Regions from separate parts of the Homo sapiens genome. Here region 1 is linked to region 2. The links come from fine-mapping of genetic effects on gene expression. A gene starts in region 2. The other region holds a variant in brackets. All regions are shown on one strand. Distances are from middle to middle. Region 1 overlaps GRIN3A (glutamate ionotropic receptor NMDA type subunit 3A). Region 2 holds the start of GRIN3A (glutamate ionotropic receptor NMDA type subunit 3A).

Region 1 (5,000 bases), 150 kb after region 2:
TACAAGCTAATTGTTCAATAAATCTACTCAAGATAGTTACCTAAGGCTTTGTGGCAATGACCTTGAACTGAGAGCCTGTATCTGGATTTAGCACTTGAAAGATCTAACTGGATATTTGGGTTAAAAGAATCACATTTATTCCCAAATCGGAATGCTTTGTTTTTCCTGTCAGTTAATTGCCAGTTGCCAACAAATCTAGTTCTATACAGTTTCTTGGGATGATGATAATAAACATTTATTGAGCAATTGTCCCATAACTTTTGATATAACCTTTGTTATACATATCATTTAATCATCATAACAACACTGTGAGTCTGGTGCCATTATTTCAGCATTACAGATGATGCCATGTAGAGATCTAGCATCTTCTCCAAAGTCGCCCAGCTGGTAAGTGGCAAAGCATGGATTTGAACCAGGCTTTCTGACCCCAAATCCTGAGCTTTATTTCTACCTCTCTGCATTTATCTTATTTTTATAGCTCCTATATCTACCTGTTACAAATTATTTATTATAGTCTTAACCATGTCATCAAATCAAGCCTCAGTTTTCATAAATGATGAAACTGAAGCCCAAAGAGGTAAATTGCTTGTCAAAGAACAAGCAGCCTCCACCTCTTTGGTTCTATGCATTGCAATGAAACAGATATGTTAGACGAGACAGTTTTAAGCCATGTTCCACCTTTGGCTCATCTTGAGAAACAGGTGACAATATTTAGATTAAACCGATAACGCAAACCAATATGCTCTGAGGCTATAGAGATCAGTCACAATATGTTGTTATGAATCCTATGTTAATTGGATTATGTCTGCTCTGTACCATATGTTGCAATCCCCAGACCACTAGACACTCTTTTTGAAACAGAGAAAAAAATATGGCCTCAGCAAATTCAATTTAGCTTTGGTGTATATTCTCTCATGCTTTAGAAACATTCTCAAGGAAAAAATATCTTCCAGACATTTTTGTTAATTACAAATTCCTAAGCCACTGTCTGAGGAACAGTATGAATTTTTTAAATGAAGACAATTTTTTATTTAAAAAAAGTATAAATTCCATTCTCTACTTATAGTACTGACTCTTTCTTTCTGTTAAGAGATAGAGTAGGTAGTTAGTCTGCTATGGTGTTATATCTATTTTGAATACTTTGAACAGGAGGAGGCTCGGATGTTTTTAAAAAGAGTGTTGGCCGGGCGCGGTGGCTCATGCCTGTAATCCCCGCACTTTGGGAGGCCGAGGCGGGCAGATCACGAGGTCAGGAGATCGAGACCATCCTGGCCAACATGGTGAAACCCCATCTCTACTAAAAATACAAAAATTAGCTGGGCGTGGTGGCACGTGCCTGTAATCCCAGCTACTCGGAAGGCTGAGGCAGGAGAATTGCTTGAACCAGGGAGACAGAGGTTGCAGTGAGCTGAGATCACACCACTGCACTCCAGCCTGGGTGACAGAGCGAGATTCCATCTCAAAAAAATAAATAAATAAATAAATAAATAAATAAATAAATAAATAAATAAATAGAGTGTCATTATGGTAGAGGAACAAGGCCACCAGACTGAGAATCAGACCGGACTTCTCTGCTGCCGTGTCAACTACCGTACCTACCCCAGTAGCCAATGACTGTGAACTATAAATCATGAATCATCAGGAATTAGCTGATTCATAATGAAAAATTCTAACACTGAAGGGTCACCGTAGTAGCAGTAAAGCTGTGTAGATCAGAAGACAGTCTGACTACTCACAGGCTAACTCTGACCTACAAATGTTTGCTTTCGTTGTTACTGGTTTTACATGGTGTTTGTTCTCACAATGTTTTTTAAAAATTACCAATATTTTAAATAAAACCTTTAAAGATTTTAAATAAAAACCTAAATTACTACAAAGAAATGCAGGTCACTCTAATATGGAGGTAGCTTTTTATTGACTAAGGAGTCTCTGAAATATTGAGATGAAATTAAGAGTTTCAGTGAAGAAAAATTAACATAGTTACACTCTTTGGCACAGAAGTTCAAAATGGACTGAAGGGTTCACTATTTTTTAAAGATATAACACTGGACACAAAATATTTATCCCCATAATCAATATGTTCTAATGCCTGAAACAGTAGAAAAATGTACAATAATCAAAATAAGTATAGCTGTGTAAAACTTCAAACTTTTATATAATAAAATATAACAAAACAAAGAAAACATAAAAAGGGAGAAACATAACATGTTAGCAAAAGGGTTAGCAGTTTTTCAAAAAAAAGCTTCATTGTGTCTGATATGCATAAATAAATATGCAAAAAAGTCATTATATGATTCATTCAAAAGGAGATAGGTAAAACAAACATGGAAAAATAGGCTTGCTAATTCAATAAATACAAATTACAATATTTAAAACAGGAAAAATGAATAATTATAAAACAGTTGGCAAAAATAGAAGCCTTCTAGGCATTGCAGTATCTTTGGTGGCATTGGGAATGGCTTTCACCCTTTTTATGGGTCATTTTACACATCACAAGTCATCAGAACAGTTGTATCCTTTGACCAGGTAATCTCACTCATTGCAATGTATATCTCAAAGAAATAAAAATATTTTAAAATGCTATACATGGCCAGG[T/C]GCAGAGGCTCACGTCTTTAATCCCAGCACTTTGGGAGGCCGAGGCAGGTGGATCGCTTGAGGTCAGGAGTTCAAGACCAGCCTGGTCAACATGCTGAAACCCCATCTCTATTAAAAAAATACAAAAATCAGCCAGGCGTGGTGGCACATGCCTTTAGTCCCAGCTACTTGGGAGGCAGAAACAGGAGAATCATTTGAACCAGAAAGGCGGAGGTTGCAGTGAGTTGAGATCGCTCCACTACATTCTGCCCTGGGAGTCACAGTGAAACGCCATCTCAAAAAAAGAAAAAAAAATACTATACACAAAATTTTTATTGTAGCAATATTTGTCGTATATACCATAAATTATAATATTTAAAAAATTAAACAACCACAGTTTGGGAGTAGTCAAGTCAATTATAACAAAAACAATAGGTGATAGTATTAGGCAACTAAAGTTAATAAATAAAATAATATTTAGAAAATAATATTTTTAGAAATATTAAAATAGTTTGTTAGAAAATAAGTTCTTTTAAAAGCATAATGCAAACTTGTTATATCCTATGTTTAGAACTCTGAAGAATATGTGTGCATATGGTCATTGTTCAGAAGAGAAAATGGAGCATTGAAAGTAATTGTTTTATAGTACAAGGATTATGGGTAATCTCACATTTAGTTTTTAAAAATATTTTTCTGAGTCGTTTTAATAATAAATTTTTCAAAAAACTGCACAACAGAGCTAATGTGGCAAATTAAGTACAATTTCAACCCTAAAAGATGGTCGCCCAAGCTTAAAAGAAATGGGGGCTCAAGAATCCCAAGAAACAGGGAGAGAGAAGCATCTTCACAGCAACATGGGCAGTGCCATGTTGATGAGCCACTAAGCAGTTTCCAGGTTAGAGGAATGCAGAGAGTGCTGTCAAAATCCTTGTTTATCCAAATGTGTGAGCACTACTCAGGCTCATGCAGTGTCTCCCTGGATTTTGTGTTAATAAATTATCTCCTCTTCTGTTTCTTTTGTTAAGTGTGATCTTTCACTATGTCTTGGTTAATGAGAAACTTCCAGGTTCTCTGAATGAATCTTTTTTCTCCCTCTTCATGATTCTTGTTAAATATATATGTTTTAATTCCAAATGATTGCACCGCACAATCTTACCTAACTCTCTTCAACCAGACTCTCTCACCTGGGAAACTCTGTCTTTGGTACATCTGGAGCCCACATTTCATGTGGATATCATTCTCCTACTTCTCCCCAACAAGGGGCCATATGTATAGACACAGCAATGAATCTGCCAAGTTCTTTTGAGCAACTAACTATTCTTCTGGGCAAAATAATCAGGAGGCAATAAATAAATAAATAAATAAATAAAATAGATACCAGGTCTTCAAAATTAGAAATAGCATTTGCTTCTTCCTTGTCCTGCTTCCAAGCATCTATGAGTCATCCATATTTCAGAAGCACCACAGCCTTTTTCTTTTCCTTACCTCTCATTAAAATCATTATTTCTCCCCCTGCCACCAGCTCTCTTATTAAGGAAAAAAATTCTTGAACATCGCATTTGGCTGTGCAGATCCAGAGAGGAGATGATACAAAGCTTAGTGCATTAGGTCACTGAAAAATACAATTATTTTCCCAGGTTCTTGCAGTCATTTTGCTCTGGGGAAAAATATTTAATAGGGAATGTCAGAGTAAATGTAATTAAGTTACTTTTCAGACATGTGCTTTTTATTTTTTATTGAACTTACTATATACTAGGCTGCTGGAGACAGGCAAAAGCAACACAGCCTTACCCTGTCAGAGAAGACTTCCTAAAACAGGCTCCACCCGTTCATTTCTGAGATCTGCGTCAGGATACAGTCTATCTCAAAAGAAGTTATATTCACACCTCGGAGCTAGAGGACCTTAATCCTTTAAACAGTACATATATTGAATCAGATTATTTGGTTGCAAGCAACAGATTTTTTTTTTTTTTTTTTGAGATGGAGTCTCGCTCTGTTGCCCAGGCTGGATTGCAGTGGTGCAATTTCAGCTCACTGCAGCCTCTGCCTCCCGGATTCAAGCAATTCTCCTGCCTCAGCCTCCCGAGTAGCTGGAACTACAGGCACCTGCCACCATGCCTGACTAATTTTTGTATTTTTAGTAGAGACAGGGTTTCACCATGTTGATCAGGCTGGTCTCGAACTCCTGACCTCAGATGATCCACTTGTCTCGGCCTCCCAAAGTGTTAGGATTACAGGCGTGAGCCACTGCGCCCGGCTGCAACAGATTTTTAAACTTAAGCAAAACCTATCAAAAGAATAACGGGAAAGCTCAATGTTTTGAAGTAAGAAAGAGAGTGACAGATGAAGCCTCGAACCACAGCACTCCAAGGATGCTAGTGCAGGAACTAGGGGACTATGTCTTTGGGGCACTGACATTGGAAATG
Region 2 (5,424 bases):
AAAAAAAAAAAAGGGGGAGACCCAGAATTGGGGACATGCCATTTAATATTATGGCCATTTACAAAAACAAAGATAGATGTGAATGCAACTTGTAATAAGTCAAGGTATAGGAAAAAACACAAGATAGTTTTCCAGACTCACCAGAAGCCTCCCATTCCCGTGGAACTTGAAAAGATTCACAGGAGGCTGCATACTGTTGCATCTATACAGACAACTGTTAAGATCTGTCGCCACAACCACAGTTCAGAGGAGGAATCTTCAGCTGTAAGAGGTTAAATGTCATATCCATAGGCGAAACAATACTGAAAAGAGAATCTAACTCCTAATTCCCACAGCATCCTTTACTGTAGCCTTTCCTTGGCTACCACCATAGCAATATATCTCAGCTTTTAGTCCATCCATTGCTGGTACCAGAAAACACAGATGTGAACAAAAGCACATGTTAAATTGCGAGCATTTGGATTTGTTCTGGTTTGACTCTCCAACATGGGTTCTTAGATCAGTAGTTCTCATTCTGAGTCAGATAATAATTTTTAAAAAGCTTCATCTCTGAGTAAGCCAATTTTGAAATTTGACTGATTTTAGCTACCAACCACACAGCTGGGAAGAACTTAAAATATTGAAGCCACAATGCTACTCACTATCTAATGATTTTGTGCAGATAACTCAACTTTTCTCAAATTCAATGTCCTTTTCTTTAGAATGGGGATGATCACACAAACCTATTGAGGTTGATTTCTATGATTTGACAGTAGTGTTATTTTTCATGTGGCTTATTGCAATAGCCTCATCTCCTTTTCTCATCTTCTGGCGTCCACTCTTAACCACTGTTCATCTATCAGTAACAAAACAACTGTAGCGATCCCGTTAAAGTATTAATTCTATCACTCTTCTGCCCTCCACTCTTAACCACTGTTCATCTATCAGTAACAAAACAACTGTAGCGATCCCGTTAAAGTATTAATTCTATCACTCTTCTGCCCAATGTCCCTGCCTTCATGCCTTCTCATCTCATTCAGAGTAGATGCCAAAGTTCATTTGCTTACATTGTCTGCCACCTCTTCATTGCCTCTCTGACCTGACCTGCCACCACTTTCACCCTGGATCATTTTGCTCCGGCCACTCCAGACCCCTCATTATTCTTTAAACCTTCCAGAAACACTCGGGGCCTTGGCATGTAGTTTCCCCTGCTTGGGAATTCTTGCCTAGAGTATTCACATGAATCACTCCCTTACCTCCCTTTACATCTTTATTCAAAAGCTGTCTTCTCCGAGAGGTCTTCCCTGGCTTTCTCACCTAAAATTACAACCCAACCTCTTCCTAATACTTCCTCTACACTGCTTTCTTTTTCCACTTAGCACAAACTAACATACCCTACATTTATTTACTTATTTGTATATTTTATTGTCTCTTTCACACTAGAATATAAGCTCTATGTTAGCATTTTGTTCACTTATTGACTATGTGATGTTGTGGAAAGGAGAAAACTCAACTTTTCTAGAGTTTATTCATCTGTTTCCAGGATGGTCCTACAACAATGATTGACACATACTAGGAGCTTAATAATTGGTTGTTGAATTTAAGTGAACTTTGAAAATGATGACCCTTGACACATGAAAAAGGTGGACAAGAAGGAGAAAGGGAAAAGGAAAAAGAAGATTTGGGGAAAGGAGAGAGAACAATTTTGTCAGATATGCTCAGACCACCATGATATGGACAAAGAAAACCAAGCAGCAAAAGGAAAACAGGAAGGACACCAGTGAATTATAATGGGAAAGCCCGGAAAGAAACAAAAGGAAGCCCAAGAAGGGAGAGCCATTCTTCATTGTTCACTCAGTATTCACCAGGTTTAAGTAGAGTTTTATCACGACCTGGTGCAGTATTATCCTCAGAAACTTGGGAAGGTCTTCTGTGTAAGAGCAGTTCAGTTATTCCCTCAAGGCAGTCATGAACTTGTGAAAAACCTAATGCATATAGAGTGATTCTAGGATGCTATTAATGATCAGATCAAACTATTCTCCATCATCATGTTTTTCTTGAGAACCTGATCTGAACATAAGTGTAATGCCAAGGACTAAAAGTACAAGGACTAAGCATGGTCATAACCTAGAAAGTTATACATTATATTCTTCAAAACACACACTCGAGTACAGACAAATATACCTCCTTACTACACAATTAGTAGATACCCAATCTTCCTGCAATGCAAGGACCTCAGACTTCTACACTTTTATTATTCAGATCTCAATCAGTGGAATCCTGTGGATCAAGGGGGAATTTCCAGCACACTAGAGGCAGCTTTTCTCCATTCATGGGATGTTCTCTCAGGCTTCAGGAGGGTTTCTTTCCCTCCTCATTCAGCCCACTACTATGATTTTCACTTTTTTTCTCATGGGAGACTTTTCTTCTCTAGCAACCCAGTCTTGCAAAAACGATGCCGAATGTCTGGTAAATTTGTTCTGAGATACCTTTAAAGATCTGGGCTGGGGAAAACAGCATTCACTTTGCAAGCTTCTTGGGATTTTTACTTAACTAGAGTCTCTTCTTCCCAGGATTTAAAACATGATGGAAACTTTAGCTCATGAATCAAAACAACCCTCCAGAGCTAAAAGCCAGCTGTATTTGCATAACAATTTAGCAGATCCAAACAGCAGGGCAAGGTCGGGTGAAATAAGTTGCCAAGGTCATGGTCATGAAGTAGTATTAGACTCAGAAAGGCTGATCCCCAGTGCTTGCTCCACCCCATGGATCTCTCCTACCCTCCTTCTAAACGATACTGTGGGATAAAATAAAATTAATCTACTGTATATGTGCAAACCACAGGCCTGCCCTTAACTCTTTCCTTACCTTCTAGTTTCAGATTATTCAAATCATGGAGGAAAAGATTAGATCACAACACGTTGACTTCACTGTATTACCATACAAATGAAATAACTTAGTACAAACTGTGATCTGGGGACTCTTGATCTAAACTGGGAACTGCTGTTGACTGCATTTTAAACTCTAAAAGTATTTTGAAACTCTTTAATTTCTTGAACTGAAAAAATTGCTTTGAATTCACTTTGTTTTAATTCTGAGAACCTAAAAACAGGGATTCTTTAAAAAAAAAATGCAAAGGCTCACATGCCAGAAAGAAAGAAGCTGAGGAGATAAAAATGTGTAAATAATTCTTACTTTAATACCCTTAGCTAGAAAAACCTTAAAAGCGACACATCCAGAAGCTCGTTAAGTCACAGCCTCTTTGAACCTATTTCAGTGAACCACCGAATTTCAGATCCCTCAGGTGCGACTCTGAATTCAGAATTCTCACCGGCTCATAGTCCTATTTTCCTTCTTAGGTTTTAGGGAATTTTGCAAACTATGACGCCCAGCCTTTGAGGGGAGAGGACTTTCCAGGGGCGCGGGATGTGCCACTCGGGAATCTCACCAACAGTGGGCGTTTAGCGCAGCCAAGCGACAGGCAGGCGCCAGGGCTCAGCAACAGGGAGGCGCCGGCTGAGGCGGGGAGAACTTTGGCGCTCGGAGCAGAGCCACCCTTTGCTGGCCAGTCGCGTTGCTCCTCCGAGGAAGCAAGCGGCGGTGGCGACTCGGTGGAAAAATAACGAAAGAAAGGCAGAGAGGAAGTAGCGAGAGAAGAGAGAAAATGAAGTCGGCGCTGGGGGAGCCTGCAGGAGGGTGGCCAACAGTGGAGGAAGGTGGATTTGGCTTCTTTTCCGCACCCCGGGCGTGAAAGCCCTCTCCAACGCGACCCCAGGAAATAAGTGGGTCTCGCCTGGGCAGAAAAGGAAAAGAATCCAGGCGAGAGCGCGTCGCTCCTCTGTCACTGCTGCCCCCGAGGAACTCCGGCTGCTTCTCATCCCGGCCGCCTCGCGGGGCCGGACGCAGTGCCCGAGGCGCCCTGCAGATGGGGCGGGCAGGGAACGGGCGCTCCAGCTGCGGGTGACAGGCGCCGGCCCGCCCGCCTGCCTGCTCAGCGCAGTGACCGGGCGGGCAGAGGATGCCAGGCGGAGGGACCTGGGAGCGGGATCTGAGACTGCCGGAGGCGCGCTACGCTCCAACTTGCATGGCCTAGAGACCGCTCCAGCTCCTGGGACCGCTTCACCGAGTGGAGTGAAGCTGCGCGCGGGACCTGGAGGCGGAGACCTCAGGCAGCGGCTGCAGAGGGGCGAGCCGGGCGCAGGAGGGGGCGCGCTTTCTCCCTGCGGGTCTCAGTAATGAGGAGACTGAGTTTGTGGTGGCTGCTGAGCAGGGTCTGTCTGCTGTTGCCGCCGCCCTGCGCACTGGTGCTGGCCGGGGTGCCCAGCTCCTCCTCGCACCCGCAGCCCTGCCAGATCCTCAAGCGCATCGGGCACGCGGTGAGGGTGGGCGCGGTGCACTTGCAGCCCTGGACCACCGCCCCCCGCGCGGCCAGCCGCGCTCCGGACGACAGCCGAGCAGGAGCCCAGAGGGATGAGCCGGAGCCAGGGACTAGGCGGTCCCCGGCGCCCTCGCCGGGCGCACGCTGGTTGGGGAGCACCCTGCATGGCCGGGGGCCGCCGGGCTCCCGTAAGCCCGGGGAGGGCGCCAGGGCGGAGGCCCTGTGGCCACGGGACGCCCTCCTATTTGCCGTGGACAACCTGAACCGCGTGGAAGGGCTGCTACCCTACAACCTGTCTTTGGAAGTAGTGATGGCCATCGAGGCAGGCCTGGGCGATCTGCCACTTTTGCCCTTCTCCTCCCCTAGTTCGCCATGGAGCAGTGACCCTTTCTCCTTCCTGCAAAGTGTGTGCCATACCGTGGTGGTGCAAGGGGTGTCGGCGCTGCTCGCCTTCCCCCAGAGCCAGGGCGAAATGATGGAGCTCGACTTGGTCAGCTTAGTCCTGCACATTCCAGTGATCAGCATCGTGCGCCACGAGTTTCCACGGGAGAGTCAGGTGAGAGGAGCCTGGTGCGTGGAGTGGAGATGGGCGCTGCTGGGGGCCGGGGCCATTGCATGAGGGGAGAGAAAACGGCTTGGTAAAGTCTGAGGGGAGTTGTTACTTTATAACTTTGATATTGCTTAACGATTGGGCCATGTTCGTAGGTGGTAGGTAGAAGGAGCTTAGTAGAAGTAGAATAAAATATTTAAAGCGCGGATGGAAATAAAACGCGCAGTGAGGTCGCGGCTGGAAGGAAAGAAGTGGGGAGAATATGAGAGAAAATCATATTTTGACCGGCTGGGAGAAATCTAGTAGATGCCCGACGGGAAGTAGAAGTCGAGGTTCAGGACCGTGGAGAGCGGTGAAGGTTCTGAAGAACTACAAGAGCAGGGTATGGGGGTGGGGTATCCCTGACTCCTGGCTAGGTGTCACACTCCCAAGAGCAACTCTGACAGCATGTGTCGGAAAAGCAGCATCTGCTCTCTCTGACTTCTTCAGAAGGTGTGCCTGAGCCTTAGGCAAAGGT

The links. PIP is the estimated chance that this variant, and not a neighbour inherited with it, causes the effect. A credible set is the group of variants that fine-mapping cannot tell apart.
Region 1: its variant is the best candidate, but not a certain one, in a credible set for the expression of GRIN3A in whole blood (TOPMed, PIP 0.51).

What each region holds. Positions count from the first base shown.
Region 1 is chr9:101,586,861-101,591,860 of GRCh38, reverse strand. All of the region lies in intron 6 of GRIN3A (glutamate ionotropic receptor NMDA type subunit 3A), which reads left to right. It overlaps PPP3R2 (protein phosphatase 3 regulatory subunit B, beta), which reads left to right. Exons shown (of 1, transcript NM_147180.4): 1 at 1-257. Among named protein-coding and RNA genes, the nearest start is that of PPP3R2, 5.6 kb to the left of the region's middle. The variant T/C (reference allele first, on the strand shown) is at 2,596.
Region 2 is chr9:101,736,770-101,742,193 of GRCh38, reverse strand. It overlaps GRIN3A (glutamate ionotropic receptor NMDA type subunit 3A), which reads left to right and starts at 3,547. Exons shown (of 9, transcript NM_133445.3): 1 at 3,547-4,913. The coding sequence starts at 4,215. RefSeq lists enhancers at 3,190-3,713, 3,714-4,238 and a silencer at 5,133-5,424.